2 separate regions of the Homo sapiens genome follow, and region 1 is linked to region 2. The links come from fine-mapping of genetic effects on gene expression. Tissue or cell type: prefrontal cortex. Region 2 holds a variant in brackets; the other region holds the start of a gene. All regions are shown on one strand. Distances are from middle to middle.

Region 1 (5,150 bases), 290 kb after region 2:
ATATTTTATTAATCAGAAAAATACTAAACAAATGTGTTTGTAGGGAATATTGAGAGTGAAAAACAATTGTTGAATGGGACATAAGCCAAAAAGACAATGCTTTTTATTATTTACAGAACGTAATTCTTTAGAAGAGAAAAAAAATACATAAATCATTCATTTGTTCACCTAGCCTGGCACTGTGCTTGGTGCTGGAGATACAGTAGTGAATAAAATAGCCAGTGCCTTGTAGAGTTTTGTGCCTGTCTACTAGGAAAGACAGGAGATTATACAGTAATTATATAAGATGCAAATTGTGATATGCCATGAAGAAACGTATAGCATTCAGAGGGACATAACACAACACAAGACATACCACATAAAACTGATTTTTTTTAAGATGGTCTCACTCTGTTGCCCAGGCTGGAGTGCAGTGGAGCGATCATAGCTCAGTGCAGTGTCGAATTCCTGTTCTTAAGCGATCTTCCTGCCTCAGCCTCCTAGTAGCTAGGATTACAGGCATGTGCCACCATACCCAGCATGTTTTTGTATTTTTTTAGAGACAGAGTCTTACAATGTTACCCAGACTGGTCTCAAACTCCTGGCCTCAGGTGATCCTCCCACTGGGCCATAAACTTGATTTTAACGTGGGAAATGGGAAAGCGTATCTCAGGACATTTTTGAAAGCAAGTTGATTAAGAAAGTAAAGAAACAGAATGGCTACTCCATAGAGCAGCCTCTGAGGACATTTATAGCTTTTGCAGTGACATGGTTGTCTAAGTGAATGATGGTGATGGTCATAAAAGTGGAGAGAAGGGGATAGAGTCCAGGTGAAGTCTGACAGGATGTAGTCATGGTTTGGAAGCGGAAAGTGAGGAAGAAGAAAGGGCTTCTGGCAAAAAAGGCTTTAGCCTTTATGCATGCAGGATCCCTGGGGGGAAAGAGTGAGTTCAGGAGCATGGCTTTTAGACTTACCAGGTTTACAAGGCAGTTGTATCTATGGAACTAAAAAATATAAATTTTGAAGTTGTATACAGAAATGGTACTTAGAGCCATAGAATGAATGAAATTGCTTAAGGAAAATGTAGTGTGAGATAAAGATCTGAGGAACTCCAACATTTAGGGCTGACTAGATCAGGGTAGCTGGCAAAGGGGACTGCGGAGTTGGCAGTGAGGCTGGAGGAAAACCTGGCAAAAGGGACTGAGGAGTTGACAGGGTAATGTCAAAGTTGTCCACAGGAATCTCCAGGTTGAGGTAGTCAAATGAACACTTAGATGAATACTGAAAAGTCCAGTGGATCTAGCAATATGAATGTCACCCGTGACCTTAGCAAAAGCACTTTTGCTGGAATAATGGGGAAAAGCCATTTTGGAGTACGTTGAAACAATGAATGGGAAGTGAGAAAGTAGATACTGGATGTATAGCAGTTTTTCCAAGAAGCTTGGCTCAGAAGGGTAGCAGACAGGATGACAAGTGGAAAGAGAAATGAGGTCACTGGAGGATTGTTAAAGAGTACAGCATGTTTGAGTGTCACTTGAAAGGTTCCAGTGGAGAAGCTGAAGAAGTAGGTAAAGGTAAGAATAACCAAGGGACAGAAGTCCTGGAGCAGGGAGGAGGGAATGGGATTCTTTAAAACCTCTTCATCAAGAAACTAGGAAAAAAAACCAAAGTTGTACCATCTCAGATTTCAGAGAAAGGGAATTTAGAAGGAAGTAATATAAGCAAAGAGCAACAATATTCTGTGACTGTTTTTAATAATAACTAGGAAAATTCCTAGTGCAGTTAACTCTGAACAAAATTCATTCCCACCTGCATAATACAAGATAGACTTACTCAGAGTGACCTTGGTAAAAGGTGTGATAATAAAGAAAGGAGGTGTCATTATGTCTTCATTGTAGCTTTATATGAAGCCCTGGTCATTTACCGTATCAGCATCAGCAAACTGAACACTGAATGATTCTTACTCCAAGAGGCAAGTCTTAGTGGTTTCTATTTTAACTGAAGGAGAGATTAATTTCTGTGCAAGGTTGAAAAAGGTGACCACAAATTCTTTGGGCTTCTTTCATCAAGAGGTGAAGTCCATTACCCCACGCCTTAACTCTGGGCTGGCTTTGTTGTTGTTTTGGCCAATAGAATATGGCTGAGGCGCTGCTTCCAAGATTAGGCCTGAATTGAGATGCCCTAGCAGCCAGGCAGCACCTGCCAGAGCATGAATAAGGCTATCTTGGACCGCCCAGCGTAGCCAACCTGTGCTGAATGAAGCCACATGAATATGCCCAGGAGAAACTAGCAGAAGAATCACCCACCTTGCCCACGTTAGAGATATAAACCACTATTTGAGGCAGTTTGTTATGCAGCAAAACTTAGCCGAAACTATTACCTTGCTACCTTGACTGCTGGTGTAATTTCCCATCTCATGGAGTCACAGAGTTTTCTTGCCAACTGCAGTGAGTTGGCAAATGGGAATGATCAGTAGCCTCAGTGTGTTTTCTGATCCACTCCATCCTGTATTATCATCTGCGAATACCGTTTTTCCTTTAAATGCAATGTGTCTTTCAAAGCTGACTTGAATTTCTCACCTTTCGAGTTACCTGCCATTTGGACTCACTTATTTGGAGGAGATATGTAAAGACCCAGCGTAATACCTGTATGCTCAATAAAAAGTATTTGCTGGTACTCCTTCCTGCCCGTCGTGTGACCTGACTGCTCTGGGCTTCTGGGGGCTCCCCCTAAACTCGCTCCACGAAATGACCCCTCCAACCTGGCACGCCCGCTCTCCTACCTTCGCCCAGGGCTGGCCGTTATCTCTGTGCTGTCACGCGGGGAAGTCCCATCTGAACTGGGGCCTTATGACCTTCGGTACTTTTATTCGAACGTAGCCTGCGTCCCTGCCTGGAACCTGGTTCCCGCCCTGAAGGACCCTTACTTAGCACTCCTGCGGGCTGCCGGGACCCCACGGCTCCGCAGGCGGAGAGACTAGGCGCGATCCCTGCGCGCCCCTCCTTCTCTTGCGCTTCAGGGGGCCGGCCCTCAGGGGGCGGGGCAGCATCGCGCGCAAGGCCTGCCGGTTGCTCGGGGTCGTATGACGCACTTTTCCAGCTCGAGCCCTCACGAGGCCGTGGGTACGACCGGAAGCCGCAGGTGGGTGAAGCGGAAACGCTTCAAACCGGGATGTTGCGGGCCGTAGCGCGTGGGCGGCCGTGGGGTCTTGGGCGCGCGCGGTGTTTCTGGCGGTGGGTCAGGACTTGCGGGTCGCCTCCGCCGGTGTTGAAGCCTCTTGTGTGCACACTTTCTCCTCAGCACTTGGGACGACCTAATTTCACTGTTAGGAACGGTTGATCCCGAACACAGGAGGGAGGGTAAATATCGTAAAACATGTTGGACGCTAGCTGTGTGCACGCCCCCTGGGAGCCAAAAGGGCGAAGTAAAACATGCACACGACCGTAATGAGATTCTGAGTAAGTTGTATATCATTAGAGAGGGGACAAAATAATAGGGTCTTGGCGAGGTCTTATGAAGAAGCTGCGCCTGCCTAGAAAGATAGATGGGATTGTGCTGTTTTCGCTTTCAGTTCAGTGATGGGGAGCCGTGTTTGGCAGTGCAGAGGTAGCGAAGTGTCCCAAGAACATGGAAGGTAAGGAAGTCTTCCGAGGAAAAACTTCAAAAAATTAGTCATTAAAGGGTGAGAGTAGAAAGATTCAAAGTGATTTTGAAGGAACAAAATTTAACCAGAACTTCAAAGGCTTGACACTATCCCAACGACTGTGAAATATCCTGAAATACCGTGCATTACTCAGTCGGGGTCTGATCCGCTACTGGAGCATAGAATAAAAAAAGAGGGGCACACCTGTGCCAGATGAATCCACGCCTTCTCTAGGGGAGAGAGGGTATCCCGGCTTAAGAGCAGGGGCTCTCCTGAGTTAAGGAAGTGTCTTCCCCAGAGCCCATTCCGTCAGACGTTCATATCATGTAACTCAGTCCTTTTCTGATTATGTATTCACCAAGCAAACTTAAGAGTTGGCTTGTCACCAGACCTACAGTGAATAATTGCACAGGCTCATCTGAATATCTGATAGATGGTCTATAGTTCTCTTTGTAAATCAATAAGCTGGCAGTCAGGGATTTTTGGACATCCCTTTGTTTTCACTTTTTCTCACTCTGTGTGATTTTTTCTTATCTTTCGGGGTTCAACTGAAATGTCACATCCTCACTGAGGTCTGTTTATTGGTTTACGTGTTCAGGTGCTTAGAACAGCTTCTTGCATCTTTTCTCACATGATGCCTTTTTAATGAGGCTTAGCCTAACAACCCTATTTAAAATTGCAATGTAAGTTTTCTCACATACACAGTTACAATCCTCCCTTTATCAGCTCTACATTTTTTTTTAATAGACTGAATCTCGCTCTGTTGCCCAGCCCATCTCGGCCCACTGAAACCTCCACCTCCCGGGTTCAAGCGATTCTCCTGCCTCAGCCTCCCGAGTAGCTGAGATTACAGGCGCCTGCCACCACGCCCAGGTAATTTTTGTATTTTTGGTAGAGACGGGGTTTCACCATGTTGGCCAGGCTGGTCTCAAACTCCTGACCTCAGGTGATCTGTCCACCTTGGCCTCCCAAAGTGCTGGGATTACAGGTGTGAACCACCTCGCCCGGCCATCTACTTTTTTTAATAGCCCTCCTTATCACCTTTATTCATTTGACTCACTGATGATTCCCAAGTGCTAAGAACAATGTCTGTCATGTAATTGATGAAAACTTTGTTGAATTAATACCTTTGTTGTGTTTTATTCACACTGTATATACAATACCTGGATGAAGAGAGATATTTTTAGCACTATTAAAATACATGCATTGGCTCAATACATGAATTGGATCAATTCTGGAACCCTAACAAGATCACATTTTTGACCAAAGTCAATATCTTGGACTATAGTTAATTTATCAAGGTAAATGCCACTTTGATGTGTCTTGGTTAGGAATCTTTGTTCACTTGAGGGAATACATGGTATATGATAGGAACAGTAAGCACAGAATAGAGATGGGAAAGGGAGAACCCTGTCATAACAGTTAACATTTCATATTTGCCAAACATGAATGGCTTATGCATATTAACACATTTAATTCTCTCAACCATTTTATGACGTCTGAGGCCACTGAAGCAGCTAGAGGTTA
Region 2 (5,150 bases):
TGCAAACTTTCCAAATTTGATGAAATATACATTATATATTTCTACATTTATATGTTTATACATACATATATCTATATATACATTTTACATTTATACATTTATTCATTTATGTGTTTATACATACACACACATATGTTTATGTGTGTGTATGTATAAAACATCCATTTAGCTCAATGAAATCCAAGTAGGATGAACTTAAGCCCACAACAAGACACATTATAATCAAACTGTTGAAAGCCAAAGACAGAAAATCTTGAAAGCAGCAAGAGAGATGTGACTTGTGACATACAACAGATCTGCAATAAGATTATCAGTAGATTTTTCATCAGAAACTTTGGAAGCCAGAAGGTAGTAGGCTGATATGTTCAAAGTGTGAAAAGAAAAAAATGTCAAGCATGAGTCCTATAACTGGCAAAAGTATCCTTGAAAAGTGAGGGAGAAATTAAGACATTCCCAAATAAATAAAAGCTGAGGGAGTCTGTTACTACTAGAGCTGTTCTGCAAGAAATGCTAAAAAGAGTCCTGCAGGTTGAAATGAAAGGACACTAGATATTAACTTGAAGGCATATAAAGAAATAAAGATCTCAATAAAAGTAAATACACGGGAATTATTAAAGCTACTCTTATTGTAAAAATGGTTTGTAACTCCATTGTTTTGTATTTTACGTGATTTAAGAGACTAGCACTTTTTTAAAAAAAGAGGTACAGGCTTTTAAAACCAACTTATGATGGTTCAATTTATGATTTTTGACTTTACAATGGTGCAAAAGTAATACCCAGTCAATAGAAACCATCCGTCTCTTGCAATGCTGGGCAGTGGCACCAAGTCTCCAGTCAGCTGTGCATTTTCAACTTAATGACATTTTCAATTTATGATGGGTATATCAGGACATAACCCCATCGTAAGTCAAGAAGCACCTGGAATTATTAGTCTCAAAACTAGATTCCACCTATATGAGGTACTCAGAGTAGTCAAAATCGTAGCATCAGAAAGTAAAATGGTGACTGCCAGGGGCTGAGGGAGAAGGGATTAGGAAGTTACTTTTTAATGCGTAGTGTTTCCATTTTGCAAGACCCCAAAAAGAGTTCTGGGGGTGGACAGTGATGATGACTGCACAACAATCTGAACGCACTTAATACCACTTAAAATGATTAAGATGGTAAGTTTTATGTTATGTGCATTTTACCACAACTAAAACGTGCACAAAAAAACCTGTACACCAATGTTCATAGCAGCATTATTTATATAATAATCAAAAAGTAGAAATAACCCAAATATCCATCTCTGGATAGATAGAATAAAAAACATGTTACATATATGTAATGAAATATTATCCATCAAGAAAAAGGAATAAAGTAATGATATATGCTACAATCTGGATGAATCTTGAACACATTAACCTAAGTGAAAGAAGGCAGCTACAAAAGGCCACATACTGCATGATTCCACTTACACGAAATGTCCAGACTAGGCAAATCCACAGAGACACAGAGTAGATTAGTGGTTGCAAAGAGGTGGGGAGAGGGATGCTGGGGAAACACAGGTAGAATGGGAGTGACTGCTAATGGGCACAAGGTTTCTTTCTGGGGAAATGGAAATGTTCTAAAATTAGATTGTGTTCCTTGGTGCACAACTCTTTAACAAAAACCCATTGATTGTACCCTTTTTTTTTTTTTTTTGAGACGGAGTCTCGTTCCATCACCCAGGTTTGAGTGCAGCGGCACGATCTCGGCTCACTGCAACCTCCGCCTCCTAGGTTCAAGCAATTCTCCTGCCCTAGCCTCTGGAGTAGCTGGGACTACAGGCAGCCACCACCATGCCTGGCTAATTTTTGCATTTTTAGTAGAGACGGGGTTTCACCATGCTGGCCAAGCTGGTTTTGAACTCCTGACCTCAGGTGATCCACAGGCCTTGGCCTCCCAAAGTGCTGGGATTACAGGCATGAACCACTGCGCCTGGCCTGATTATACATTTTAAACAGGTGAACTTTATGATATGTAACTAATATGTCATCAAAGCTGCGGAAAAAGGATGAAATAAAGACATTTTCAGAAAAGAAAAGTTGATACAATTTGTTTCCAGCAAACTCACACTGAAACAACTGTTACAGGAAGAGGGATGCAATCTCATGGAGAAGACTGGAGGTGCAGGCAGGAATAGGGGAAAACACAAACGTGGACAGACACAAACGTCAACAAGAGGAGGTGGTGGGCTGGACTCCAACCCAAGCCCTGTGCACACCAGCAGAATGCGTGCCTCAGCCCTGCTCTCCCTCCACCAATAGCACTCCGTTTCCTTCCAGCTTGGAGCCTTTGCAGATGTTGTTCCTTCTGCTTGAACTTGATGTTCCCTGCACATTCCACTTTGGTCTTACTCCTACTCATCCTTCAGATTTCAGCTTTCATTCCACTTCCGCAGGAAGACCAATCTGTCCCTTCAGGATGTGTCAAGACCTCCCGCGACATACTATGGGAGACCCTGTGCCTTTTGTTCACAAAACTTACCCATTTTACATGTATACATGTTTGTGTGATTCTTTGATCCATTTCCCCTTTACAGATTCACGCCTGGTTACATTCCCCATACTTTTAATCAATTTTTCCCTTTCCTGGGGAAAAAGATGAAAATAAATTATGACTTAACTATTGTTCTCTAGTGAGTCATGCCAAGATCTGCCTGTACCTTTTTTTAGAAAAATAAGTTTCACATTACTGAAGCAAATGGAATGTGAAATGCTTGCAGAGTTCCTGTGAGAAATCTCTGTTCAAAAATTGTGCCAGCTTGCTGCTTAATGATATTATTATCCTCAAAAGCAGAGGGACTTGACAGCTGTACCCACACCAAAGAGGCGTCAAGACCGGACCTCACTGCAGCCAACCCTTTCTCCCTGAAGGTGTCAAGAGGACTTTCTG[CT/C]TTTTTTTTTTTTTTTTTTGAGACGGAGTTTCGCTCTTGTTGCCCAGCCTAGAGTGCAGTGGCGCAACCTCAGCTCACTACAACCTCTGTCTCCTGGGTTCAAGTGATTCTCCTGCCTCAGCCTCCTGGGCAGCTGGGATTACAGGTGCCCACCACCGACCTCAGGTGATCCACTCACCTCTGCCTCCCACCTCCTGCTCTCTGAAGCTGTCATCCACTTGTGTGCAAAACCTTCTCTGTCCTCTTGTCAGAAAGGATAGCGAGGACAGAGAGACAGATCTGCTCTGACATATAAGAGAAAAGAAAGCAAAGAAATCTCATAATCAAAGGGCTGAAACTAGAGAATATTCAGATGCTAAATGACAGAGCTCTAAGTAAAGCAAGAAGGGCGAGTAAAGGAACTTGGCTGGTCAGATTTGAAGTATCTTATTGCCCTGTAGTTACTGTTTGTCTGATGTTTAAAAACTAAAGTAAGGCGTGGCCTAGAGAAAGCCCCTTTCTTGCTAAGTAGGTAAAACTGGAAGACTAACTCCATGAGGAGAGATAACATGTCACCAGCATAGAACAGCTGCATGGTAGTGCTCAATAAATATTGTTAAATGAATGAATGAATGAATGAGCAAATGATCCAGAGGCACTTAGCAGTAACACCTGATAGATGAAACAATCACTTCTTCTTTTTTTTTTTTTTTTTTTTTTTTTTTTTGAGACAGAGTTTCACTCTTGATGCCCAGGCTGGAGTACAATGGCATGATCTTGGCTCACTGCAACCTCCTCCTCCTGGGTTCAAGTGATTCTCCTGCCTCAGCCTCCTGAGTAGCCGGGATTACAGGCACGCACCACCACGCAGGCTAATTTTTTGTATTTTTTTTTTAATTAGAGACAGGGTTTCACCATGTTGGCCAGGCTGGTCTCGAACTCCTGACCTCAGGTGATCCCCCGCCTCAGCCTCCCAAAGTGCTGGGATTACAGGTGTGAGCCACCGTGACCAGCAGAATCACTTCTTAATGATCACCCAACACATTAATGCCTCAAGGACAGACTTCTTTCAAAATCTATGACTCAGCTAGACAATGTCACATTTCTTTAGCCTGAGTTCTTCTTGCCTAGTGTCTTCCTATAAACATCATCTACCCTATAGCCACACAGAGCTGAAGTCTGCTGGGCTTTGCAGACCCCTCGGTTTGGGAGTAAAGGAATATAGAAGCAGAGGAGGCCCCTGCTTAGAGGCCTGGTTTACTTCCCCAGGCTTCCCCTCAGCCGTGGGCAGGGCAGGGACAGTGAGGGCATCTAGAGAGAATGGCAGGCCACAACTTGCTGGGCTGCTTCTTTGCAAGAAAATACCATAGCTTCATTCCAACACTCAGTCAGCCATGAGATAAACAGCATAGTTTATAAGCATATAAATAGTATCTTATATAAACTACACTATTTTTTAGAAACTACCTACATAACAGTTGATTTAGTGGTATTCAGAGTCCCTATAAATGGACAAATTAACTAACTTAGCTAGGCATGCATACAGCTATCCAACACAGTGTATACTCTATATATGCACACATGAGCCTATGTTCACATGGGCCACCTAAGCCTGCACGAACACCCCTGAATACAATTCATGTCTTAGACTGCAAAGCATGACAGCTTTCATAACAGCGACCTGTTTACACATTCATTGAGGTGAATGTTTTCATATGAGATTTGAAAAACATTAGTTTAGACATTTTCAGGTCATTAGACTAAAAAAAAAACTATCAGAGACTTTTACAAAACCATTATTTCAAAAAGAGCTAAGCATCAGACTTCATAGCCTTATTTTAGAAATTCTATTTGCATAATTCTTGGGAAGATACAATATAAATTCACTCTAACGCTGAGGAGTGTCTTGCAAAGAGGCCATCTAACTTGGCAACGTTCAGTCTCTGAGTGAGAGCTATGACTCGTGCTGACTGCTGCACACATATGTGACGAACAGGACACCGAAGCCCTGGGCACAGTTTTGCAAGGGCTGGCTTATTTTTAACTTCATGAGTTTATTGAGGTAATATACTCCATTTTTCTATGCATATATCCCCAAAATACTGCTTCATTTATCTAGAACCCTACATTTATGACTGACATTTCTGCAGCACAGCAGATGTGGAGCTGAATTTGTTTTTGTTTTTGTTTTGTTTTTTCAGTAGGAAATAATGCTCCGAAGCCTATTACCAAGACATAACATCACCACTCTATCCTG

The links. PIP is the estimated chance that this variant, and not a neighbour inherited with it, causes the effect.
Region 1: it holds the start of TSGA10, and the variant in region 2 is fine-mapped to the expression of TSGA10 in prefrontal cortex (CommonMind, PIP 0.95).

What each region holds. Positions count from the first base shown.
Region 1 is chr2:99,151,931-99,157,080 of GRCh38, forward strand. It overlaps TSGA10 (testis specific 10), which reads right to left and starts at 3,012. Exons shown (of 21, transcript NM_025244.4): 1 at 2,763-3,012. LIPT1 (lipoyltransferase 1) reads left to right here and starts at 3,037. Exons shown (of 2, transcript NM_145199.3): 1 at 3,037-3,121. RefSeq lists enhancers at 2,644-3,265, 2,655-2,854, 2,915-3,144, 3,175-3,374, 3,455-3,534 and 1 more.
Region 2 is chr2:98,862,885-98,868,034 of GRCh38, forward strand. All of the region lies in intron 1 of CRACDL (CRACD like), which reads right to left. Among named protein-coding and RNA genes, the nearest start is that of CRACDL, 71 kb to the right of the region's middle. The variant CT/C (reference allele first, on the strand shown) is at 2,914.